Linked DNA regions of Homo sapiens. The protein of the gene in region 7 purifies or fractionates together with the protein of the main gene of each other region. This does not show direct contact. Each region holds a gene or a part of one and is shown on either strand. Other genes may lie near its edges.

What was found.
Region 1: the proteins of FGF14 (region 7) and GEMIN2 purify together in Homo sapiens (affinity purification with mass spectrometry; one large-scale study listed by BioGRID and IntAct). This does not show direct contact.
Region 2: the proteins of FGF14 (region 7) and PRKACB purify together in Homo sapiens (affinity purification with mass spectrometry; one large-scale study listed by BioGRID and IntAct). This does not show direct contact.
Region 3: the proteins of FGF14 (region 7) and KIAA0232 purify together in Homo sapiens (affinity purification with mass spectrometry; one large-scale study listed by BioGRID and IntAct). This does not show direct contact.
Region 4: the proteins of FGF14 (region 7) and SCN5A purify together in Homo sapiens (affinity purification with mass spectrometry; one large-scale study listed by BioGRID and IntAct). This does not show direct contact.
Region 5: the proteins of FGF14 (region 7) and GEMIN5 purify together in Homo sapiens (affinity purification with mass spectrometry; one large-scale study listed by BioGRID and IntAct). This does not show direct contact.
Region 6: the proteins of FGF14 (region 7) and ZSWIM8 purify together in Homo sapiens (affinity purification with mass spectrometry; one large-scale study listed by BioGRID and IntAct). This does not show direct contact.

The regions. Positions count from the first base shown.
Region 1 is NC_000014.9:39,117,323-39,120,822, forward strand, and holds part of GEMIN2 (gem-associated protein 2), read left to right. Parts: intron 1-676; coding exon 677-766; intron 767-1,217; coding exon 1,218-1,277; intron 1,278-3,500. UniProt on the Homo sapiens protein: The SMN complex catalyzes the assembly of small nuclear ribonucleoproteins (snRNPs), the building blocks of the spliceosome, and thereby plays an important role in the splicing of cellular pre-mRNAs.
Region 2 is NC_000001.11:84,196,271-84,199,770, forward strand, and holds part of PRKACB (cAMP-dependent protein kinase catalytic subunit beta), read left to right. Parts: intron 1-345; coding exon 346-472; intron 473-1,458; coding exon 1,459-1,554; intron 1,555-3,500. UniProt on the Homo sapiens protein: Mediates cAMP-dependent signaling triggered by receptor binding to GPCRs.
Region 3 is NC_000004.12:6,859,227-6,862,726, reverse strand, and holds part of KIAA0232 (uncharacterized protein KIAA0232), read right to left. Parts: intron 1,827-3,500; coding exon 1-1,826.
Region 4 is NC_000003.12:38,548,688-38,552,187, forward strand, and holds part of SCN5A (sodium channel protein type 5 subunit alpha), read right to left. Parts: intron 2,872-3,500; coding exon 1,634-2,871; 3' UTR 1-1,633. UniProt on the Homo sapiens protein: Pore-forming subunit of Nav1.5, a voltage-gated sodium (Nav) channel that directly mediates the depolarizing phase of action potentials in excitable membranes.
Region 5 is NC_000005.10:154,928,212-154,931,711, forward strand, and holds part of GEMIN5 (gem-associated protein 5), read right to left. Parts: intron 3,367-3,500; coding exon 3,247-3,366; intron 449-3,246; coding exon 316-448; intron 1-315. UniProt on the Homo sapiens protein: The SMN complex catalyzes the assembly of small nuclear ribonucleoproteins (snRNPs), the building blocks of the spliceosome, and thereby plays an important role in the splicing of cellular pre-mRNAs.
Region 6 is NC_000010.11:73,788,606-73,792,105, reverse strand, and holds part of ZSWIM8 (zinc finger SWIM domain-containing protein 8), read right to left. Parts: intron 3,437-3,500; coding exon 3,283-3,436; intron 3,011-3,282; coding exon 2,916-3,010; intron 2,740-2,915; coding exon 2,567-2,739; intron 2,390-2,566; coding exon 2,282-2,389; intron 2,151-2,281; coding exon 2,069-2,150; intron 1,935-2,068; coding exon 1,814-1,934; intron 1,132-1,813; coding exon 930-1,131; intron 783-929; coding exon 607-782; intron 248-606; coding exon 1-247. UniProt on the Homo sapiens protein: Substrate recognition component of a SCF-like E3 ubiquitin-protein ligase complex that promotes target-directed microRNA degradation (TDMD), a process that mediates degradation of microRNAs (miRNAs).
Region 7 is NC_000013.11:101,906,946-101,910,445, forward strand, and holds part of FGF14 (fibroblast growth factor 14), read right to left. Parts: intron 1-3,500. UniProt on the Homo sapiens protein: Probably involved in nervous system development and function.

The DNA.
Region 1 (3,500 bases), on a different chromosome or scaffold from region 7:
AAGTACATTTTGCCCATACCAAAGTTCTTATTTTTAATTTTATTGATACATAATAATCATAATTTCATGCTTTATCACGCAGGCACAATAATAATTGTACATATTTATGGAGTATATGTGATATTTTGATACATGCATACAATGTATAATAATCAGTAATTAGGATAGCCATCACCTCATTTATCATTTCTTTCTTTTGGGAACATTCAAATCTTCTAGCTGTTTTGAAATATACAATAAATTATTGTTAACTGTAGTCACTCTACTGTGCTATTGAATGCTAGAACTCATTCCTTCTAACTGTATTTCATACCAGAATTCTTTATTTGTGGTATATCTCTCTTTTTGTTTCTGTTTTGCTATTCTAGAAAGGCAGGTAGGGCTAGATCATATTCTCCAGGCTCATGTCATTTAGATTTCATAGAAACTCCAACTATAAACCTTTCCAGATTTCTCTGATTAAGGTGACTAAGGCTCTTTCCCTAATATTTTTAACTGAGATATAAATAATAAAGTGAAATGCCTACTTTTTTACATCTGCAAAAATATTTTATTTTCTTGTATAATCTTTATTTTATTATACACTTTATCTTGGTTTTACTTTTGCTTTGCAGAGGCATGAGATTCTAGTTTTGACACTAATGTTGATCCTAATATTTGTGAACTTGATCTCTAGCTTTCAGGATGCCAACCCGCCCCTGAAGGTTATTCCCCAACACTTCAATGGCAACAGCAACAAGTGGCACAGTTTTCAACTGTTCGACAGGTAAGTGTCATATTTAATCTAATTAAGCCCCTGTTGGATTTATTTCTGTTCTTAGACTGTAGCTGGAAAAATAAAATTTATGATCCTAAAGTATACAGAATATTCATGAATTAATTACCAAATTATTTTTATAATCATTAGACATGATACAGTTTGAAATATTTTCTAAGTTTTGTTTATTTTTATTTGTTTGTTTATTTATTTCAATAGTTTTGGGGAACAGGTGGTTTTTGGTTACATGGATAAGTTCTTTAGTGGTGATTTCTGAGATTTTGGTGCACTTGTCACCCAAGTAGTGTACTCTGTACCCAATACATGGTCTTTTACATCTCACCCCCTCCCACCTTTCCCATTTTTCAAGTTTTAGATGGTTACAATTTTGTGCAGAAACTGATTTCAGTTATCCATTTTTTGAAGAGTACCATCTAATGTCTAAGTTTTCTTCCTTTAGAATGTGAACAAACATAGAAGTCACTGGAAATCACAACAGTTGGATAGTAATGTGACAATGGTATGTAAGTTTCTCAGTTTTAAGATGTACAATGTATACCTGATTGAAAGAGTCTATATTTACTTCCAGTCGTTAAAGATTCACTTGCCTAGTCAGTGTTACTTTCATTCTCTTCAATATACCATTAATAGTAACAATTCATTACATTAGTAGCCTGGAAAGTATAGATTTTCATGACAAATTTTTTTTTTTTTTTTTTTTGAGACAGGGTCTTGCTCTGTCTCCCAGGCTAGAGTGCAGTCATGGCTCACTGCAGCCTTGACCTCCTGGGCTCAAGTGATCCTCCCACCACCGCCTTCCAAGTAGCTCGAACTTAAGGCATATACCACCATGCCCAGCTAATTGTTAAAATTTTTTGTAGAGACAAGGTCTCCCTGTGTTACCCAGGCTGGTCTCTTACTCCTGGGCTCAAGTGATCCTCCTGCCCTAGCCTCCCCGAGTGCTGGATTACAGGCATGAGCTACTGTACCCAGCCTTTCATGTCAATTTTAATTCACAATATCTTGGGGGACTTTGGATAGGTGACTGTGAAACTTCCACAAGTTTTTAAGGATTCTTCTAGACATTTACTTTCTAGGAAATAAATACATTTTCAATATTTACAAAAAAAATTGAATAAAGCCTTAATGGATTTTCCTGATGAGGTGATGGTGCCATGCAGTAAACTCACATGTTTACAGAACTTGTGAATGGATTCTGCTTCTGCTTAATGTGATGAGTCTGTGTCACAATTCCAGTGACATATAAGTGAAACCTGTCATGTATATTGTCATGCATATGTCCTATATTTTATCAGTTTAGATATAACTTTAAGCCCTTTAGTAGATATATCAGGACTACCAAATGAAAAAAGGAGTTGGAAAGATGATACATTGTCTCAGGACAGTAGTTTTTAACCTTTTAGGGGACTTCATATTCTTTCGTAGAATCTAATGAAAGCTATTTATCTTCAGAGGGAAAAAAAATGCACCTATGCACAACATTTTAGTTTCAGGTAGTTCATAGATTTTAGATTTTAGAAGCTTCCTTTAGGCAGTGCTTCCTGATATCTTTTACATGGTGACACATTAGAATAAATGACTGCTTGCATATTCTTCCTGAAACCAGCCGAAAGCTGAGAGATTCAGTATATGGCATCTCTGTATGCTTCTGCATACCATTTGGAAGCTCTGCTCCAGGAAAAGCGTGAAGGGAAGTAACTTATCACTTGCCAATGGTCATTTAACTTGTAAAAGGTATAGCTAGTCCTTCTATCAAAGAAGCATGCGCACATAAACACACAAAAGGTATGCTTAAGGTTCAAACCCAAGTTGGTCTGTCTCTAAAGCCTGTGTGCCTTTGACTATGCAATGGTGCCTTCCTAGTACCAAGGATGTATGTATGTAGTAGGGACAGGGCTAGGTAGGTAAATATATTTTTTTTCTTACTTAGCGGAAGGCCTTTTGGGTGCATGCCCACTAACTAAAAAAGAAGCCACATCAGTAACATTATGACTTGATAAAATTTTGTCAAAAATGGAAATGACCTAACATAATTGATTCAATAAACTATGGTCCATCAGAACAGTGGAATATTATGTAGCAATTTTAAGTGTTTGTCATGGCAAATGCAAACATCATATAAGTAATAAAATGAAAATGTTTTAAAGTACACTCTGAGCCAGGCACAGTGGCTCATGCCTATAATCCCAGCACTTTGGGAGGCTGAGGTGGGCAGATCACCTGAGCTCAGGAGTTCGAGACCAGCCTGGGCAACATGGCAAAACCCTGTCTCTATTTAAATTATTTAAAAAATAAAGTACACTGTGATGGCAACTGTGTGAAAACATAAACATTTGTTTATTAATTGATCCAATAATTTAAGCATGTGCTATATTTAATAATCAGGATATTCAGTACTAACTGAAACAGAAACAGCTTCTGACCTAATAGAGTGTTAGGAAAAGGTAGATAACCTTATTCCAAGACAATAGGGTTTAACTTTGTAGTGGTCTCATGTTCATCGTGAGGTTTTATTTTATTTTATTTTATTTTATTTATTTTTTTGAGATGGAGTTTTGCTCTTGTTGCCCAGTCTGGAGTGCAGTGGCACAATCTTGGCTCACTGCAACCTCTGTCTCTTGGATTCAAGCAATTCTCCTGCCTCAGCCTCCCAAGTAGCTGGGATTACAGGTGCCTGCCACCACACCCAGCTAATTTTTGTATTTTTAGTAGAGACGGGGTT
Region 2 (3,500 bases), on a different chromosome or scaffold from region 7:
TCCATTTGGCACATTTGCTTTCCAATTATTCTCAAGATCAGACATAATTAGAAAGACATCAATATATTTAAATATGGGCAATAATGATTCACAATGAGCTAACTATTTTAGGTTTATATTTTTCCTCAACATATGCTTCCCCATAAATTTATCAGAGCGTTATTTGAACAAAATATAGAGATTTAATAAATATTTGAAAAGTAACAAGGTTCTTTACATACTTTTTAAAAAAATACTTTTTGTTCCCAAAGTACCTCTACTTCATATTAGTTTTTATGCATAATCTACTAATTAGAATGTATTAACTCATTTTTACAGAAAATCAATGGTTTTATTTCTTTGCAGTGAGCCCCATGCACGGTTCTATGCAGCTCAGATAGTGCTAACATTCGAGTACCTCCATTCACTAGACCTCATCTACAGAGATCTAAAACCTGAAAATCTCTTAATTGACCATCAAGGCTATATCCAGGTATGACTTTAACACATTATGTGTACTGTATATGAGAAAATACTAGGCAAGACATTGTATGTATGTAACCCCAACTTGGAATTTTTTTTGAAGAAGACACTTTCTCCTAATAGTTTAAGTAGAGCTCAGAGTTTTGCTGCTATTACAGAGAAGCAAAAATCCTGTTATGAAAGGAACTTGTTTATATCTCCATTAATCTATAGTTGTGAACTGAGTATAGCCTCTTGCATAAGGAGATATTAATAGCTAAATCTATGAGCAGTTATTAGTGCCAGGCATATTCCACTTGTTTTACATGTATTATTTCTTTAATCCTGATAAACCTATGAAGTGGAAATACCATTGTTATCTTCATTTTAAGATTAACAAAACTAAGACATAGCAAGGTCATTTAGCCAATAAATGGTAGAGTCAGAATTTGAACCTAGGCAGTCTGATCCCAGAGTCCATGCCCTTTACGACTACAATATAACTGCCAAAGAATCCCTGACTACCAATACTGAACTCGTAGCAACGTTTTCTTTCCACTTCTACTACTAATAAAGTGGGAGCATTTCTTTTTACACAATTATTGATAGATTCTCCCATTGACGTTTTTACACTTCTGATGGTGCAACTAATGGCAGAGGACACATTGGGGTAAGGCAGACATTTAGCATTGTTTCATTTTTATTAATGCTATTTATTTTTACCTTTTATTTTCACTTTTTTATTCCTTGGGTCTAGGATCTTATAATAATGACTGAAAAGAGTTTTGTTGTTATTAATTTGTTCCTTTTCTTTGAGTTGAGGAAGGATTTCCAACTTGGATTGTTTAAACTTTCATTCACTAGATATTCATGAATGAATTTCAATTACGTGGACTTAATTTTTTTTCCATTTCTTTCATAGTTTCAATTTGAATTTTAAACTTTCAACGTAGGTGCAATAAATACATTTATTGTGAGGTAATACATTTTCACTAGTATTCTTTTTTTCTTTTATAGGTCACAGACTTTGGGTTTGCCAAAAGAGTTAAAGGCAGAACTTGGACATTATGTGGAACTCCAGAGTATTTGGCTCCAGAAATAATTCTCAGCAAGGTATATTCATAATATCAACACATAAGAAGTAGAAATATGAGACATGCATCCCTATGGACTTTTGTAAAAACAGTTTATTGATCTAATTTTACATTTTTAATTTGATCTAAGTTATGAATTTAAATCTATTTGTGCATGATTACTAAAGAATTATTATTTAGCATCTACCACTAATCCTGTAACCTCTGTCAATTTTAACTCTGGGTCTTAGAGATATAATATGAATAAATATGACCTCTAGATCCATGTTTTGCAACCAAAAACATAGTCTTTTCTTAATTATTCCTAGTAACGGAAGGGTAGAGAAGACTTGCTCTGGATTATACCAAGAGGTAAATCTAGAGATGATATGTACTAGTTGTCCATTCTTTCTTTGTTTCAAATTTACCAGTTAAATAAAAGGAATGTATGAGAAGTGTTTTTAAATTTTAAATAGGACTATTAACAGCAATTGAATAGTTTTAGTCTTATTGAAGGCAGCTCTGCTTTTCTAAATAGTGAAACGTGGTGAGAGAAACTGTACCTATATCCAAAAGAATGGTTAACTTTTCCTCTGCCATCACTTGGTGGAGAAATCTAGAAAGGAGAACCTAACAATAACCAGGCACAAATAGGAGAGAGGAAAAGGAAGGGGATAAGACACATGCTTCACTGGTTCCCAAATGGAATCATTGAAATATGGCTAACTTATAGAAGTGTTAAAATAAAAGATTTCTTTCAACTTTTCTCTCATTATCTTTCATAATTTAAATAATATGTAACTTCTTGATATTTTATAATCTAAATATCATTGTAGTTAACACATTTCTTTAAATACAGTTAACAAATAATGGGACAACAAAATGAGCACTAAAACTTTTACAAATGTGTATATATTGTAAAAGTAATACTCATTATACAAAATTTAGAAAATACAGAAAAACATAAACAAACAACCAAAAAAAAACCTATATGTAATCCCACCAACCTAGACGCAGCCTTTTTAAAAACATTCATATATGTATGTACATATATGTATATATGTGTATATGTGTATATATATACACCACATATATGTGTATATATGTGTATATATATACACATATGTGTGGTGTGTGTGTATATATGTATATGTGTATATATACATATATATTCATATATATGTGTATACGCATATATGTATATATGTATATGTGTATATATACATATATGCGTATATATACACATATATACGCATATGTATGCATATATATATGCGTATATATGCATATATGTATATATATGCGTATATATGCATATATGTATATATATGCATATATATATATATATACACACACATTTTAGCTTTATTTTAGCTTTCATTTTAGGTTCAGGGATACATGTGAAGGTTGGTTACAGACGTAAACTCATGTCATGGGGGTTTGTTATACAGATTATTTCATCACTCAGGAATTAAGCCCAGTACCCATAGTTATCTTTTCTTATCCTCTCCCTCCTCCCTACCTCCACCCTCAAGTAGAATCCAGTATCTGTTTTTTCCTTCTTTGTCTTCATAAATTCTCATCATTTAGCTCCCACTTACAAGTGAAAACATGTGGTATTTGGTTTTCTGTTCTGCATTAGTTTGCTGAGGATGATAGCCTCCAGCTCCATCCATGTTCATGCAAAAGACATGATCTCATTCCTTTTTATAGCTGCATAGTATTCCGTAGTGTATATGTACCACATTTTCTTTGTCTAGTCTACAATTGGTGGACATGTAGGTTGATTCCATGTCTTTGCTTTTGTGAATAGTGCCACAATGAATAAACAAATGCATGTGTCTTTATGATGAAATGATTTATAATCCTCTGGGTGTATACCCAGTAGTGGGATTGCTGGGTCGAATGGTAGTTCTGCTTTTAGCTCTTTGAGGAATCTCCATACTGCTTTCCACAATGGTTGAACTAATTTACACTCCTACCAAC
Region 3 (3,500 bases), on a different chromosome or scaffold from region 7:
AAACTAATGTAGGAATCTCACCTAAAGTTCTACTGTTTTGCTGGCAAGTTTCATCTTGCAAAAAATCTAGAAGTTCTTCATCTACATAATTTGACGAGACTCTAGGAACTACATAATTAATATCTTCGGCATTAAACTGTGTGGATTCTTCAAACTGAATATTTAATGTTTCATTGTCTGAACGTGTTTCTTCTGAATGGGACCATGGACTACAAGTTCTTGTTGAAAGATTAGAACAGTGTTCATTTTCTTCAAAGGCACTATTTTTGGTCCATATTAGCAATCTAGACTGTGTTTTCCCAAGCATATTAGCACTAGAATCTGTATTTTCATTTCCCAAGTTGAGTGTTTCAAAAGAAAATGGTAAAACAGAATTACTGCATTGCACTTCAAACACTGAAAAACAAGAGTTTATACCAGATCCTTCATTAATATCTGAAAAGAGCTCTTGATTGCCAGCAAGCAGGTGTGAATTGAGCACTGTGCTGTCTAAGATGGGAGAGAGTCTAACTGGAGAGTCTCCTCCAAAACTCTCCCCATCAGCATCACCGGAGCTGGATGAACAGCACTCCCAAAACTGAGCCAGATTGCCAAGGTCCTGCAGGAATAAGCCCTCAGCACCTACGGAGCTGGTAGAATCTGTCCATATTGCACGTTCCCCTTGCAACTCCATACCATCTAACACTATGCAACATTCTGCCTCAAAATCTGTGTTCTCTTTGCTTTTCTGTCGAATCATATTCAAAATCCGACTTTCTCCTTGCATTGTTTCTGAGGCACCAGGATCCAACATGGATTGATCAATATCCACTTCATAGAAGTGCGTTAATTCTGATAGATGAATATCATCCAGGTATTTATTGTCCTCTGGTAGAGAACATAATGAGGTCCCAGTGAGGTCAATATCCTCATTTATAACTGCAGGCATTTCTACAAAATGACCATCAATGAAAGTACCTGCTGCGAGGTATGTTTTATGAAGATTATTGTTGCTGATACAAAGACCATGCACTGATTCAGACAATTCTTCCACTGCCTCTGATGTCAGATCACTTGTATCCTGTCTGTTTCGGTATGTGGTCTCTAGTTTACTTTTTCTGCTCAGAGGAACAAAATATTCAGCAATTGGCTCGGTGTACCACAAGGGCTCCTCTTTATACTCTGTGTCCTTTCTATTCTCCATGTACAGGTCTTTTCCTTCAGTGCTCCCAGGATCTTTTCTCCCTATTTCTTTTAAAGGTCTCTTACCCCGCTTGCACAGCTGTTTGACAGAACCACTGCTGCTACTGCTACTACTTCCAGTATGAATGTTCCTTTCAGCCTTTTCACCGTGCTTCAAAGAAAGCCTGCTTTGCCCATTCCGCCCTTTTTTGTTTCGAATCTCTCGTGCCTTGTGTCTTACTTTAACATACTTCATGGATGCTTTTAATTCTCCCTGATTCCCACTGGAACTTGAGCCTGCTTCACTGGAGCCAGAAGACCACGAGCGAGGGCGAATCTTTCCTTCAGGTTTATGTCGGATTTGCTTTTTGTACAAAGCAGGCTTTTCTTCAATTGTGCCATTACTAAATTTGTTTTCCTTCTCGTTTTTGCTTTTGCTCTGGGTTTTCTCATGCACAGTGGTGGGTACTTCACTGCTTCTTTCCTTGGTGACTTCACTTTCACTGTTGCAGTCCTTAGGAGAGGAAGTATCTGTGCTAGCTGGTGGGGCTGTGGATGATGAAGAAGAGCTAGAGTAAGAACAGACTTTAGACTTGTTCCACACAGTCATGATTTCTTGCAGGCAAACTGGTTTCTCAGAAAGTGGTGGAAATGCTTCATAGTACCTGAAAAACAGAGTAAAGACTTCAAAACACGAGTATGCAGATTTTTTAGATACAGTAAAACAACATTACCAACCAGAAGAATGGAATATTTCATTTTAGTAGTGTCAACATTCACATCATCCAAGAATCATTAACTTTACAATAATTTATAATACAGTAAAATATGCTTAAGATTAGTCCCATGCATCAAGCACCATTTTGCTCAGCACTGTGATACGCACTGTAAGATTACTGAGAAAATATGTAAGATGACAGTTTTTATCTTCAAAGTTTGCATTTTAATTAAGAAGTCAAAAAGGACAAATAGTAGAAGAAAGAATGCAGTCTCTTCAGTAAGCATTATCTGAATTTGAATCTCAGCTAAGTCACTATTGCTTGCGACTTTAAGCTCATTATTTACTGCTTCAGACTATTTCCTCAACTGCAAAATGGTGATCCTATGACTTACCTCCCAAAGTTATTGTGAGCGTTGAAAATATATGCGGTTAAAAAGCTCGGTAGCAATCAGTCAAGAGTATGAGCTCTGAAGCCACATTCTCTGAGGTCAAATCCTGGCTCTGCCTGCTTTACTAGCTGTGTGACCTTAGGCATGTTACTTAACCTCTCCATAGCTCAGTTTCCTCACCTACAAAATAGAGCTAGTAATATTTACCTCTCAGGGTTGTGAGGAGTAAAGGAATTAATATGCAAAATGAGTTGGAACAGCAGCTTCTTACGTAACTGCTAGCATACTGCCTGGCATTGAAGCAGGCCCTCAGAAAGGGTAGGAATGATCACATTCAAGTATTCAGAAAGAGGATGTCGGTGAGGCCTACAACAATTAAAGTGGGCCACAACTGAGCCTTGAAATTCCAGATTTATTCCACAAGTTTAGTGAGTACTACCTGTGAGGCCTGAGAGCCTGTGTGAGGACACCAAGACACACATGTTATGCTCACAGAATGGAAAACTAACTAGAGCTGTGATCACCAGAAATGCAGCGTAGAAAAAGCCAGGGAGGCTGGTTTCAGGGGGCTTGAAAATGAGAAAGTATTTTTGATTTGCTAGGAAACTGGGGGCCACTGAAGATTTCAGAGCAGAACAGATTGCAAAGGGCAGAATTTAAAGTCACATTGGCTACTGGGGACTGTTGTTTCAGAGGCAATGCTCAAGGTCACACATGAAGTGGTAAAAGGCCATGTTTTCAAAGGGCCTGAACTTGATTCTCTTTCTCAGTCTATGTCAGAGTTGACCAACAGAAATATATTTTGAGCTTCATATGTAATTTTAAGTGTTCTAGTAGGCACATTAAAAACATAAGAAATAGGTGAAATGCACTCCAGTAATATATTTAACTAAACTCCTGATATTATCATTTCAACATGTAATCAATACTTTAAAATGTTTAATACTTTACTTTTTTTTATATATAGTCTTTGAAATCCAATGAGAATTGTCCACTGACAGCACATCACGGTTTGAACCAGCCCCATTTCAAGTGCTCAGTAGTCACACATGGCTTACAGCTTCTGTGCTGGATAATACAGGTCTATACAAACCAAGGAAATGCTATTTTTTTCTTAGGTTTCAGAGGTTCGAAAGATTAAAATAAAATGTATAATAGGGAAGTCTGTTTATAATGCAGATTATTTTAAGACTATTTACGAACAAAAAAATAAAAGTATCTTTAGGAAG
Region 4 (3,500 bases), on a different chromosome or scaffold from region 7:
CCGACAGCTCGGCGAGGTAGGTTAGGAGCAGCCAGCCCAGAGCCGGCAGGTGAGACTGAGGTGGCCTGGGAGGCATGCGCCCGGTGGAGGGGCTCCATGGGAGAGCTGGAATGGGGCAGCCAAGCCCCTGCCTGCTCAGGCTTCGCCAGTTGACCCTGTTACCTCAGGGTGACAGTTCTCTATGTTAAAAGATTTGCATATGCTAAATAGGATTGTCAGCAGCTGAAGAGGTCCTGGGGGTGATTGGACTAGTAAAATATTTTTCCCTGAAAAAGCCTTTTCACAAGACCTATGGGACCACCTGGATCTTGCCCCAAAGAGGTCCTCTGTGTGGGTGCCATCAGGATCCCGGGCTGAGCCAGAGAGGCTGGGCCTGACCACAGTGCCCCCTCTCTCAAAGGTGCCATGGTTCATTCCCCTCTAAGGGCACGAGAACTGGGCCTGACCATCCCTTTCCCTGCACAGGGCGCAGGGCCAAGCTCCGCTCCCCACTCCCATGTCTCTGTGTCTGGAGAGGAGCTGGAGACCACACAGAAAACTCCTCCGCGTATGGTCCAGAGAGCCCTGGGAGATCGCCAGTTTCCTCTCTTCAGGCAGGCTGAGGGGCCGCCATGGCTCAGGGCTGGTGAACTTCTTAGCCCCAAACCCCCATGGCTCAGCCCTCTCTTCCGATGGCTGGCTGGGCAGGGCCTGCCAGGTTCCAGGAGCAAGGACAAGCTGCATGCCAGGCCGTGAATGGGGCTTGCACCCTTGTGTCCTTTGGTTTTGTTAATACTCTTACAGGAGGGGAAGAAAAGGCAACTATCAGTGCCTAGGGCCAGCCCTGGGACCCAGGCCACTCTCCTCTGGAAGCCTTTTATTTTTGTAGGACTGACAATATGACCTGCGTGAAAACACAGGGGGAAAATGGGACCTTGGAGACAATAGGGGGCCAGAGTGAGCCCCGTGGACAAGAACCCCATCCTTGGGGGGCCGGCAGGGAAAGGCCTGTCTCCCTTAGGCTGGGAGCCTGGGTCCCACGGCCTGTGTCTGGCCTCCGTGTGTGAGGACTGTGTGTGTGTGCTTGTGTGAGTGGGGGTTCAGCCCTCCCAGCATCTCAGGTCAAGTGGGAGGGGGACCCCATTCGACCCCTGGGCAGTGAAGACCTGTGGGAGCCACACTGGATTCCACTTCTGCTTTGAGAACAGACTTCCGGCTGCTCCATAGACACTCTTGTTCAGGGTTAAGAAGAGACAGCGTGAATTGCTGCCCATGTCCATGGAAAAATCCTTAGTTCTTTGCTCAAGTAAAAAAATATCAAATATAATAAATTTATGAAAGCCCATTCACAACATATACAGTCTCAGTTTTATATTTCGCCTCAGCAGCTGGGATGAAGTTGCTTTCCAGAGCCGCAGGGCATTGCCTGACCAGACCAGGTCACAGGTCTATCTGAGGCCTCCAAGCACAGGCCAACTGCTCCGGCTGTCCACGCGGCGCCACAGAACTCTGCCTGGTTGATCCGCGGGGCTGAGGCCCATTTCTTACTCCCAAAGCCAGGAAGGCCCCAGGCTGGTTTGTGACTGACTGCATTTAGGTTTGCCATGGTGAAAAAGGCTGCTTTTCAGTGTGTCCTGGCCAGCCAGGCCGAGGCTCACACGATGGACTCACGGTCCCTGTCCGGAGAAGGGGGGAAGTCGGCGAGATCTTCACTGTGGCTGTAGTCAGACCCCCGCACCTGGAGGTTATCGCTGGTGGCTCTAGTGACACTGTCATAGGAGGGTGGGAAGGAAGTGGAGGAGATGGAGGAGCTGGAGGGTGGGCCAAGGGGTCGGGAGAAGTTCTCACTCATCACGTAGGCGATGAGGCCCTCTCGCTCAGGGGCATCCTCTTCGGAGAGGCCGCTGCCCGCCTGCTGACGGAAGAGGAAGGAGGCATGCTTCAAAGAGCGTTGCAGCAGGTGCCTGCGGAAGGCTCTCTGGATAACCATGGCCGACACCTCTTCGTGCTTGCGCCGGAGTGTGGTGGTGATGGGCTCGTAGGAGATCTTGGATGGGTTGGCTGCCATGAACTTCTCCTCCATCTGGATCTTCAGGGCGTCCATCTCCCCAGACTCCCCCAGGACCCTTTTGGTGAAGGCAAAGAGAATGTCCATGCAATGGATGCGGTCCCCACTCACCATGGGCAGGTCCATGTTGATGAGGCTTATCTGGTTGGGCTTGGCGATACGGAGTGGCTCAGACAGGGCATCGGCAAAGTCAGACAGGACCGAATACTCAATAAACTGAGTGGCCTCTGGGTCAAATTTCTCCCAGATCTCATAGAACATATCGAAGTCGTCCTCACTCAGGGGCTCGGTGCTCTCCTCCGTGGCCACGCTGAAGTTCTCCAGGATGATGGCAATGTACATGTTGACCACGATGAGGAAGGAGATGATGATGTAGGTGGTGAAGAAGAGGATGCCCACGGCTGGGCTCCCGCAGTCCCCCCGAGAGCCATTGCTGTTGGGCAGAGTGGGGTCGCAGTAGGGCGGCCCAGTGTTGAGGATGGGGCTGAGGAGGCCATCCCAGCCGGCCGACGTGGTGATCTGGAAGAGGCACAGCATGCTGTTGGCGAAGGTCTGGAAGTTGAACATGTCGTCGATGCCAGCCTCCCACTTGACATAAGCGAAGTTGGCCATGCCAAAGATGGAGTAGATGAACATGACGAGGAAGAGCAGCAGCCCGATGTTGAAGAGGGCAGGCAGGGACATCATGAGGGCAAAGAGCAGCGTGCGGATCCCCTTGGCCCCTCGGATCAGTCTGAGGATGCGGCCTATTCGGGCCAGGCGGATGACTCGGAAGAGCGTCGGGGAGAAGAAGTACTTCTGGATGATGTCCGAGAGCACAGTGCCTGTGGGAAACAACAGAGACTGTGGCTACTGGTGGCACCTCTGTCTTCCAGCCAGCATCACTGTGCAGGGGTTGGCGGTGGGGGGGGGGTCTCTATATGGCAAGGAGCCAAGGAGAGGCGGCCCTTCCAGGATTGCGTCCACTGGGCATGCTAGGACTCTGCCTGCTCCTGTCTGTTTGAGTCTCCATGTCTGCATCTGTGACCCAGAAAAATGGGTCCTTTGCAGGGTTCCTTCTCAGCCCCCTCATTCCTTAATCTTCAGTGTGTACCTACACAATAGAGCTGTCCTAGGCCCATCTTCTACATCTTGGGTTCTCAGGCCAGAGGGGATCTGCTTAGTATCTTGCCCACCCAGCTTGGGCCAGAACTCAGGTCTTTTAGCTCCTTGCTATTCAAAGTGTGGTTTGAGGACCAGCAGCCTTGGGATCTCCTAGGTGCTTATCAGAAATGCAGAATCTCAGCTCCACCCCAGCCCATTGCATCTTAAGAAGCCCAGATGATTTATGTGCCCATCGAAGGGCATGAAACACTGGCCCAGAAATCAGTGCTCCCTGATGCCACGCCATGGCCAGTGTCTTCTCTCAGCTTCTCTGTGATGGTTCTTATCGCTCTCCTAACTCTGCCTCCTT
Region 5 (3,500 bases), on a different chromosome or scaffold from region 7:
CCTTTCTACACTTGAAGTGACTGAAGCTCAGAAAAGTAAAGGGTCTTGCTCAGGAATACAAGGCAGTAAGTGACAAAGTGATTCTGAAATTTAGTTCTGACTTCAGAGTCCATATTCCTAACTGCCGGACTATACTTATGTGATCTTTTTACAGCTCTGTTAGTAGATAGCACAGGCATTAGTCTCATAATTTTTCCATTTCAAATGGCCCATCATAATACAAGCCTTGGCCATTACTTTCTCCATCCTAGGAGGACTTGAGGCCAAATAGAAAAACAAAATATATCTGAGAAAGCATGACCAAAAAAGACTTACCCAAAACAGCTAGATACCAGCTGTGTTGGTTGATTGCTGGGCCAATGGAGTGTCAACCAAAGGCGCTCTTTAACAGTTGGGTCTATACCCCCTCCTCTTCTCTTCAGAAAGGGCAATTTCAAAATCATCACCCCTGCAGATTAAAAAGAAGGCCAGTGGGCACTCAAGACAGTGAAACTACATGCATGAAGTCACCGGTGGTTCATAACACACAGTCTGCGCTGTAAAAGCTTGTTAGTTTGGCTACTTAGAATTCAGATCTCATTTTCCAATGGTTACAATTTTAACCATTATTATGGTTATAATTTTAATCACTATAAATACTGGTTAATACTAGTCTAGCTACATTTAGGTCAAACAAGCTTCGACAGGCTATCTTGACAACCTCAACGTATTAAGAGTATTTTTTTTTTTTGGCCGGGCGCGGTGGCTCATGCCTGTAATCCCAGCACTTTGAGAGGCCGAGGCGGGAGGATCACGAGGTCAGGAGATCGAGACCATCCTGGCTAACATGGTGAAACCCTGTCTCTACTAAAAATACAAAAAAATTAGCCGGGCGTGGTGGCAGGCACCTGTAGTCCCAGCTACTCGGGAGGCTGAGGCAGGAGAATGGCATGAACCCAGGAGGTGGAGCTTGCAGTGAGCTGAGATCGTGCCACTGCACTCCAGCCTGGGCGACAGAGAGAGACTCTGCCTCAAAAGAAAAAGAGTATTTTTTCGTCTGGGAAAATGAGTTCCCAAGTAAAACTGAGAACCCAGCTAGTAACACAGCTGAGTTGTGTACCCAAAAGTATTGCAGTGACATAACTCCAAAGTGAAAAGGACAGAGGTTGGGATTACTATTTCTAGTCGGCAAGAAATCCAACAAAGAAAAATTTGGCAGTGAACGTGCTGTGGGTGGGGAGTACCTCCACCCGACATGCTTCTAATCACCGTTTTTTAAGCTGTATTGTGCATCGGAACCACAGGTGGAACTTTAAAAAATACATACGCCAGGGCCTAACTCCTAGAGATTCGGACTCAGTAGATCTGAGGTGGGGTACAAGAACCTACATTTTTCCAAAGACTCTCCAGCTGATTCTGCTGCACAACCACAATTGAAGGCCATTTTACCAGACACCTCTAAGTCTAGAGGTTACCCTCCTGGAGGGATCCTCAGCCTTATGTTCCCACTTGGAGTTTTAGCTGCAGTATGCCAAGAAGTAGCCTGTAAACCTTAAAAAAGTTCTGTCTTCCCAAATTATACTATTAGTTACCTACCACTGATGAAGCCTGGATGACATTCCAAGTGCTGTGCTACTTGCTTTACATGCATTTGGGCAAATATGATAAAACTATCATGGTTTCAAATAAAGTAGAAAGTACATCCATGCTCATAGCATATTATTTAGAATAGTAAAACATGGAAGCAACCCAAATGTCCATCAGTGTGTGAGATATGAGTTCTAAATTTCTCTTCAAAGAATCAATATGTCAGTATGTTCAATTATTTGGCTTCTGTTTTTAAACTTAACTTCCTCGTAAAAGCAACCTTTTTCGATTACCTGCTCCATCCTGACTCATTCCGATTACCTGCTCCACCCTGACTCATTCTGATTTCCTGCTCTGCCATAACCATTTTTCCTGCCATAACCATTTTCTCCCATCAAACCACTTACCCCGGCACTCTCTTTAAATCAGCGAATCAGAATTAGTTTAGCCTGTGCGGTCTAACCCTAGCTGATAGGGGAACGACACAGCAGCAGGGGCCACATGCGTCAGGGATAAGAACCCCTCCCCTCCGTTGTCCAAGTGTGCGCTCACCATTGCTCCATCTGTAAGGGCGCACCCTTCTATAGAAGTACATTGCCTTGCTGAGAATTAAAAAGAAAGTTTTATATTTGAGTGCTATTTCTTTTGCCACACCGAAATTTTATTTATAACAAGTGGATGAGTGGGTAAGTAAAATGTGGGACATACACACAATGGAATATTATTCAGCCTTAGAAAGGAAGGATATGCTGACATACGGTACCAACATCAATGAACCTCGGGGATATATGCTAAGTGAAATAAGCCAATCACAAAAAGACATATCATATGTATAACTTCACTCAAAGGAAATACTCAGAGTAGTCAAAATCATAGAGCTGAAAGCAGAATGATGGTTGCCAGGGCCTGGGGGAGGGGGAAATGGAGAGTAGAATTCTGGAGATGGGTGGCTGTGACAGTTGCACAACTTTAGAGTGTACTTCATACCACTTAAATGTACACTTAAAAGTGATAAAGATGGCAAATGTTATATTTTCCACCACAGCTTAAAAAACTGCCAAAAAAAATAAAATAAAATGAAGAAAGAAGAGAAGCCCGCTAGAAAGAGAAAAACAAGATTTTTACTATAAAGGTTATATTCTATGATATACTATAAATATTCATTATGCCTAGAGTTTCTCTCAATTTTTAAACTTAAAGATAAAAGTTCTGTTCAAAGAGACATTTGGGAAAGCTAAATGATTGAGGGGCTCTATAATTTGGATAAAATGAGCTTTTACACATAATTCTATGCTGGGTGTATGTAATTTATTCTGCATTTGTGCATTAAAAGCTCTAACTCTTAAGATATTTTCCATTCTCCTGGCTTAGGCCATATCATGTTCTAATATTCCTGTTTTTATTACAAATATTCTGCTCTCCATGCCAAACACTGACCCTTCTATAAAGCAAGAGATCCTTGTCTTCTCCTGGAATGCATGGGAAATACTAATCTCTAAGGCCAGATGTTGAGAGAATAGAGAGTCTAGGCCAGGCTCAAATGAGGAAGCAGAATTCTAGACCAAAAAGTGAAGAACTGCTCTCAAATAGATGACACACCCTCAGGACAATAAGAACAGAAAACCCTCTACTTCCACCAGATCAACATAGGTTACATCACAAAAGAAAGATCAATCTTACCTCGGCCTCTAGAACAGCTCCAGATTCGAATGGTTTGATCTTTGCTTCCAGTGGCTAAGTAGCAACCTTTTGTTACTGGAGCTTGTGCTACAGCATTCCCGTTGGTAATTTCAGCTTCTTCTATGAGATAGGTGGCAATTTTGTTTTTAATTTACATTAAACACGCACTAATATAAAAAAATTAGTTTGCAAGAGTTTCCAAAACTTAGCTATCTCTTTCATAGGTCTGAACTATAAAATTTGAAGTTTTAGGT
Region 6 (3,500 bases), on a different chromosome or scaffold from region 7:
CCCAGAGCGGGAGGCACCTGGCCGAGAGGGCAGGGCCCGGGCCCAGCACAGTGCCAGCTTCCTGTCAGTGCCGCTGTAGGTGACACCAGGAAGTGGGTAGGCCTCTTCCCAGTTGAAGTAGCAGGCCTCCACCGCTGGCCGGAAGCCGGGGAAGAGCCGCTCCAGCGTCTTCTTGTGTTGGCCCCGCTTGACGTTCTCAATCACCTTCAGTTGCCACTGCCGCAGCTGCGTACACAGTTCCCGGCGCCTGTGGGAACAAGGGGCAGGAGGCTGCTGAGGGGCTACTGGGAAAGGATGGGCATGGAGTAGGTGTACACCCCAAAGAGAGGCATGGGGAAAGGATACAGGAAAGTACTTCTTGACCCAGCCCCATAAGCATCACTGAAACACTGGAGAATTTTGAAAAGTGGGTGTTATTTAGGGGAAGGAAGGATGAAAGCCTCTCAGAAAAAGGACTCGTAAATCACTGCTAACACCAGTGCTCAGCACCTCCCGTTTCCCGAGGACTAAAATCATGGTATGTCTCTGCAAACAAGGAGATGAAGGCTCAGTCTGTCCTGAGCTGGCCCAGGCTCAGTTCTGTGGTGAGCCTCAGGGGAGACTCACCGCTGGGGGCTGAGTGCAGGGTCCAGCACGGCCAGCCTCCACAGTGTGACCATCTCGTCACACATGCTGGCACAGGCATGGGCTGCCACCTCTGACTGCCCGTTGCTACGGCCCGTGTGCCCACTGGCACTGCTGTGTGAGGCTGAGGTACGTACGCTATACCACCAACCTGTTATCTGGAGACAAAGAAGGCTGTGAGCTGCACCTGAGAGCTCAGAGAAAGGCAGAGTAGCCCTCCCAGAGTCCATTTCAGCAAGAGGAGGATGAGGCAGGGGGAGGGAAAGAATGAGCTACCACGGGGCTCCCCAACGCTGAGTGATTACCTGTTCATAGGTGAGGCACTGGTCAGTGAGGATTTCCAACAAGGGGGCAGCATTGCTGTCCCTCCGCTTGAACATCTCCCGCACAATGCTTAGCAGGTTCCAGACGCCCTCTGGCTCACGGCCCCTCAGAGGGCGCAGCAGACATGCCCATTCAGCAGCGGCTGGCGGCTCCGTGGAAGACAGATACATGGAGTTCACATCACTGTAAAAGCAGAGGAACAGAAAACCATGACAGTAAGACGGGGCTGAATGAAACCTAAAAGGGCTTCCGGCCCCAAAATACAGAAGATAGAGGGAAAAAGACATCTGTAACAAAATTTTTTTTTTTGAGACCAAGTCTTGCTCTGTCGCCCAGGCTTGAGTGCAATGGCGCGATCTCACCTCACTGCAACCTCCACCTCCCGGGTTCAAGCAATTCTCCTGCCTCAGCCTCCCAAGTAGCTGAGATTACAGGCGCCCGCCACCACGCCTGGCTAATTTTTGTTTTTTTAGTAGAGATGGAGATTCGCCATGTTGGCCAGGCTGGTCTCGAACTCCTGATCTCAGGTGATCTGCCCACGTCAGCCTCCCAAAATGCTGGGATTATAGGTATGAGCCACCGCCCCCAGCCACAAAAACTCTTTAAAAAATCTTTCTCTGTTTCCATTTCCTGATCTATCAAAAGAAGAAAAGGAACTCTTGCTAGGTAAGAGCAGACCACTCTGTGACTGTACAAGGTCATCATCTTCCATCAATTCGTTAGTGACAACTGTGTGCCAGGCACTGTGCCAGTTCAGGGAATAAAAGGTAGGGGTCACAGGCATGAATAGAAGAAAGGATCTGTCATCAGCCTGAGGGACGCTCCCCCTCCACCACAGACACAGGTATGCAGAGATCCGATTTACCTGAAGACCACAGGGGAGGGGCCACAGAACTTGTGCAGTGTCTTTTTGATGTTGTCAGTGAGTGTCGATTCATCCAGATACCAAGTACTCTGGTCCGATGCTGAGGGCCCTGCTGTGGGGTCTGAGGATGACAGGCAGTCAGTCATCTAGAGATAGGGGCCTGGATTTGCCTGACAACAGCAAGCCTTGAGTAAATGGCGCTCTGTACTACAAGCTGGCTTTCTTCCTACTGCCAATCTTTCTCACCACACTCACCCGGAGCTCCACACACTGTATTGATGGCTGTTGACTGGGAAGACAGGAGTTCGTCCAGGAGACGCTGAGCTGTGGGGAGGATCTGAGGGAGAAAGAGACGGAGGCAGGCAGAACACGGCCTAGGTGAACCCATGGAGGCCTGGGCCTAACAGGAAGGCTGTTATGCGGCCTGGCCCGGAGCTAATTGCAGGAGGGGGTGCCGACCTCACCCACCTGCTGAGGGAGCTCACTGATGAGGTACTGAGCAAACTTTTGCAGCTGGTCCCTCTGTAGCCGGGACAGGGACTCTGAGACTGGGGCTCGCAGGCAGACTGCAGAAGCCTGAAGGGGACACAGAGAAAAATGGAACAATCTGAGAACAGGTTTGCTGGAGCTGGAGCTGGGGGACAGAGAGGCAGAGTAGGCGAGGCGAGGGGGCTCACATTGTAGCCAGGCATGCAGCAGAGAAGGGGGGGATGGAGTGTAGGATAGGGCCGGGATAAATTGGGAGGGCCTCACGTTGTGGATGCGGAAGAGACAGAGTGCCACGACGTGGGTGCACCATTTGGCCCCAGCCCCACAGGTACAGCTGCAGGAAGTGACCCGGCAGCGGTCAAACATCACAGCCACGTTGTAGGCCCCTTTAGGAGGGACCATCTGAGGTGGCACCACTGTAGCACTCAGGTGGAACCCTGGGGAGAAATGGGGGCATGGTCAGGGAGTGCTGTCAGGACCTGGGTCTCTGCCCTTGACCCTGGCCCTGCAGTTATTCAGACAACATGCTCCAGCTTCTTGCGGTGTGTTCTTACTTCATAAGCCAGGGGATGGGAGGAGCAGGATGTGCCACATGGCATGATGGCCCACTCACCTATCTGCAATGGGTCCTTCACAGCCCGCATGCGGAAGAGCTGATCCCCTCGCTGAAACTCATCCGCACTGCCATTGGCCAGGCACGAATACAGCCTGGGGGTGAAGAAGAGGACACAGCCACAACTCAGCAAATAACCTTTGGCAGACCCTGTCAGAGACCACAATGCCCTAGGCACTCTCTCCCTAGCCTCATTCCTTCCCCAGGGCGGGGGGTGGGGGGGAGGGAGTGGAATCCCAGGCAATCCCTCCCTTGTCTTCCTCTTACCACTGCCCCAAATACAATGTCTCCTTTGTTCTATGGGAAACCCAGCAGACAGTGTGGAGTATCAGGACCCCGCTCCCCACCATCAGTCCTTTGGCCTCACCGAATGTCCTCTTCATTCTCAGGGAAGCTCCAAAAAGCAATTCGGAGCTGTAGCTGCTCAGGCACTGGTGGGTAAACTTTCTCCACCACTTCAAATGGGATATGAAATGCCACCTGCTTTGCTGACAGCTCCACCAATGGGATCACCAGTCCATCTTTGCAAACAATGGTTGGGATCAGGGGAAAGAGAATAGGAAATGAAAAGGGCCATGGTCTCTT
Region 7 (3,500 bases):
CGGCCCTTCCAAAGTTTATGACTATTTCTTTCTACATAATGCTTAAACTTGAGTGATATTTATCATTAAGCAAACTAATATTTTAGTTTGCCAATGATTATTTGCTATGATAGTAATTAAGGAGTCTGAAAAGCAGCCGTTGCTTAATCACAAATCTATTATATTTAAATACAAAGACTAATTCTCAGAAAGACCATTCATCTTCTTCTGTTTTATAGAGACAAGCCACTCTGTCCAAACACAAATACATGTGATGAAAGGAATATTCTTCCCAAGTAAGGAAACACCAAGCATTGCCTTCTAATGGTACCCGAATACCAACTGAGTACTATTAGTGTTTGGCTGAACATCAAATCACATGGAATAGTTAACGTATTAATACTCTCAATTAGAAACCCAAATATATCGTCACTATAAAAAGATGATCGCATAAAGGGTACTGGTTGGGTAAATGGTAGGTTTAAAGTATTTCGATGCTAACTTTACCACTTTGTAGTAAAAAATACAAATTTATTATGAAAATTTGAATGCCAAATACTATACGGGTAGGATAAGAACTGAAAACAGAATCTTGAGTTTGATCACTTGCAGGTCATGGGTGACCGTGACAAGAACAGTTTGTTACTGGGGACAAACACCTGTTTAGAAAGGGTCCAAGAGAGAATGGGAGAAGGATAGTTGCAATTTCTCTTTCAAAGAGTTTTGCCAGTAACAGACAATTAATTCAATAGCTAGAGAGAAATGCATAACCAAGAGGGGATTCTTTTTTAACATGGGGTAATTATTTAAGATGTTCTAAATATTAGAGCATATTTAAATACTGTTAAGGATAATACAGGAGGATGTGGGATAACACAGTAGGATGATGCAGAAGAGAAGAAAATTATTGGATTGATTTCCCTGAGTAGGAGAGATGGTCTAATGCTAAATTTGATGAGGTCTTGAACTTAGATTACAGCACTAGGAGTTTATCCCCAAGTTCAGTAAAAAAATAAAAAGAGGAGTAAATGGATAGATCTGCAGATAGACTTATAAAAGCAGTTGTGGAGTATGTGAACATTTATTTCTTATTATTTCTACTTTCTCAGACAAATAGAAGTAAGGATATAGCTGAGAGTAGAAATGGGAGAGGAGACATAAGAGGTTTGAAGGGAAGTAAGGTAAGAAATATGATCCAGTTAAGTGAAAATGGATTTTAAAAAAGAAATGTACCAAGGGGCCCCCTGAGGTTATTGACTGTGAATTTAAAGTAGGACCAATGTGTCTGCGTATTTTTCTTCAGCCAAATTCAGCCTTGTAAGTGCAGGCAAATAGTAGGCAGGCAGATGGGCTAAACAGTTAGCAGATCTTCTCCTAATCCCAGCCCCACTCTTCAAAGCTATGCAAGCTTTTTATTTTTGTTTCCGATTCCTCATCTGTAAAATGAATGAATGGATAATATTAGTGTATTATCGATTACTGGATAATTTAGTGTATTAATGAATGGATAATGTAGTGTACCTACCACATGGGTTTGTTGTGAAGATTAAATAGTACTCAATAGACACAGAGTGTCATGCAGGTAGTTGTTAAATACATTAATAATTATCCAATTATTGGACCTCTTCAAAGAGAACTACAAACCACTGCTCAATGAAATAAAAGAGGATACAAACAAATGGAAGAACATTCCATGCTCATGGGTAGGAAGAATCAATATCATGAAAATGGCCATACTGCCCAAGGTCATTTATAGATTCAATGCCATCCCCATCAAGCTACCAATGACTTTCTTCACAGAATTGGAAAAAACTACTTTAAAGTTCATGTGGAACCAAAAAAGAGCCCGCATTGCTAAGTCAATCCTAAAACAAAAGAACAAAGCTGGAGGCATCATGCTACCTGACTTCAAACTATACTACAAGGCTACAGTAACCAAAACAGCATGGTACTGGTACCAAAACAGAGATATAGATGAATGGAACAGAACAGAGCCCTCAGAAATAATGCCACATATCCACAACTATCTGATCTTTGACAAACCTGACAAAAACAAGAAATGGGGAAAGGATTCCCTGTTTAATAAAGGGTGCTGGGAAAACTGGCTAGCCATAAGTAGAAAGCTGAAACTGGATCCCTTCCTTACACCTTACACAAAAATTAATTCAAGATGGATTAAAGACTTAAACTTTAGACCTAAAACCATAAAAACCCTAGAAGTAAACCTAGGCAATACCATTCAGGACATAGGCATGTGCGAGGACTTCATGTCTAAAACACCAAAAGCAATGGCAACAAAAGCCAAAATTGACAAATGGGATCTAATTAAACTAAAGAGCTTCTGCACAGCAAAAGAAACCACCATCAGAGTGAACAGGCAACCTACAGAATGGGAGAAAATTTTTGCAATCTACTCATCTGACAAAGGGCTAATATCCAGAATCTACAATGAACTCAGACAAATTTGCAAGAAAAAAACAAACAACCCCATCATAAAGTGGGTGAAGGATATGAACAGACACTTCTCAAAAGAAGACATTTATGCAGCCAAAAGACACGTGAAAAAATGCTCATCATCACTGGCCATCAGAGAAATGCAAATCAAAACCACAATGAGATACCATCTCACACCAGTTAGAAAGGCGATCATTAAAAAGTCAGGAAACAACAGGTGATAGAGAGGATGTGGAGAAATAGGAACACTTTTACACTGTTGGTGGGACTGTAAACTAGTTCAACCATTGTGGAAGTCAGTGTGGCGATTCCTCAGGGATCTAGAACTAGAAATACCATTTGACCCAGCCATCCCATTACTGGGTATATACCCAAAGGACTATAAATCATGCTTCTGTAAAGACACACGCACACATATGTTTCTTGCGGCACTATTCACAATAGCAAAGACTTGGAACCAACCCAAATGTCCAACAATGATAGACTGGGTTAAGAAAATGTGGCACATATACACCATGGAATACAATGCAGCCATAAAAAATGATGAGTTAATGTCCTTTGTAGGGACATGGATGAAGCTGGAAACCATCATTCTCAGCAAACTATCACCAGGACAAAAAAACCAAACACCGCACGTTCTCACTCATAGGTGGGAATTGAACAAGGAGAACACATGGACACAGGAAGGGGAACATCACACACGAGGGCCTGTTGTGGGGTGGGGGTAGGGGGGAGGGATAGCATTAGGAGATATACCTAATGTTAAATGACGAGTTACTGGGTGCAGCACACCAACACGGCACATGTATACATATGTAACAAACCTGCGCTTTGTGCACATGTACCCTAAAACATAAAGTATAAAAAAATAAATAAAATAAAAAGTAAATCAGACCAAAATAATAATAATAATAATTATCCAATTATAGCCATTGCTATGCGTTCATTTATCTCAATTGTATTCTATGCTTCTGCTGCATATATGTCCTGACAAATGTGGTATGTTTCATTCACTCAACAAATACTTCTGAAGTGTTAGCTGTATGCCAGGCACTGGTGAGACAATG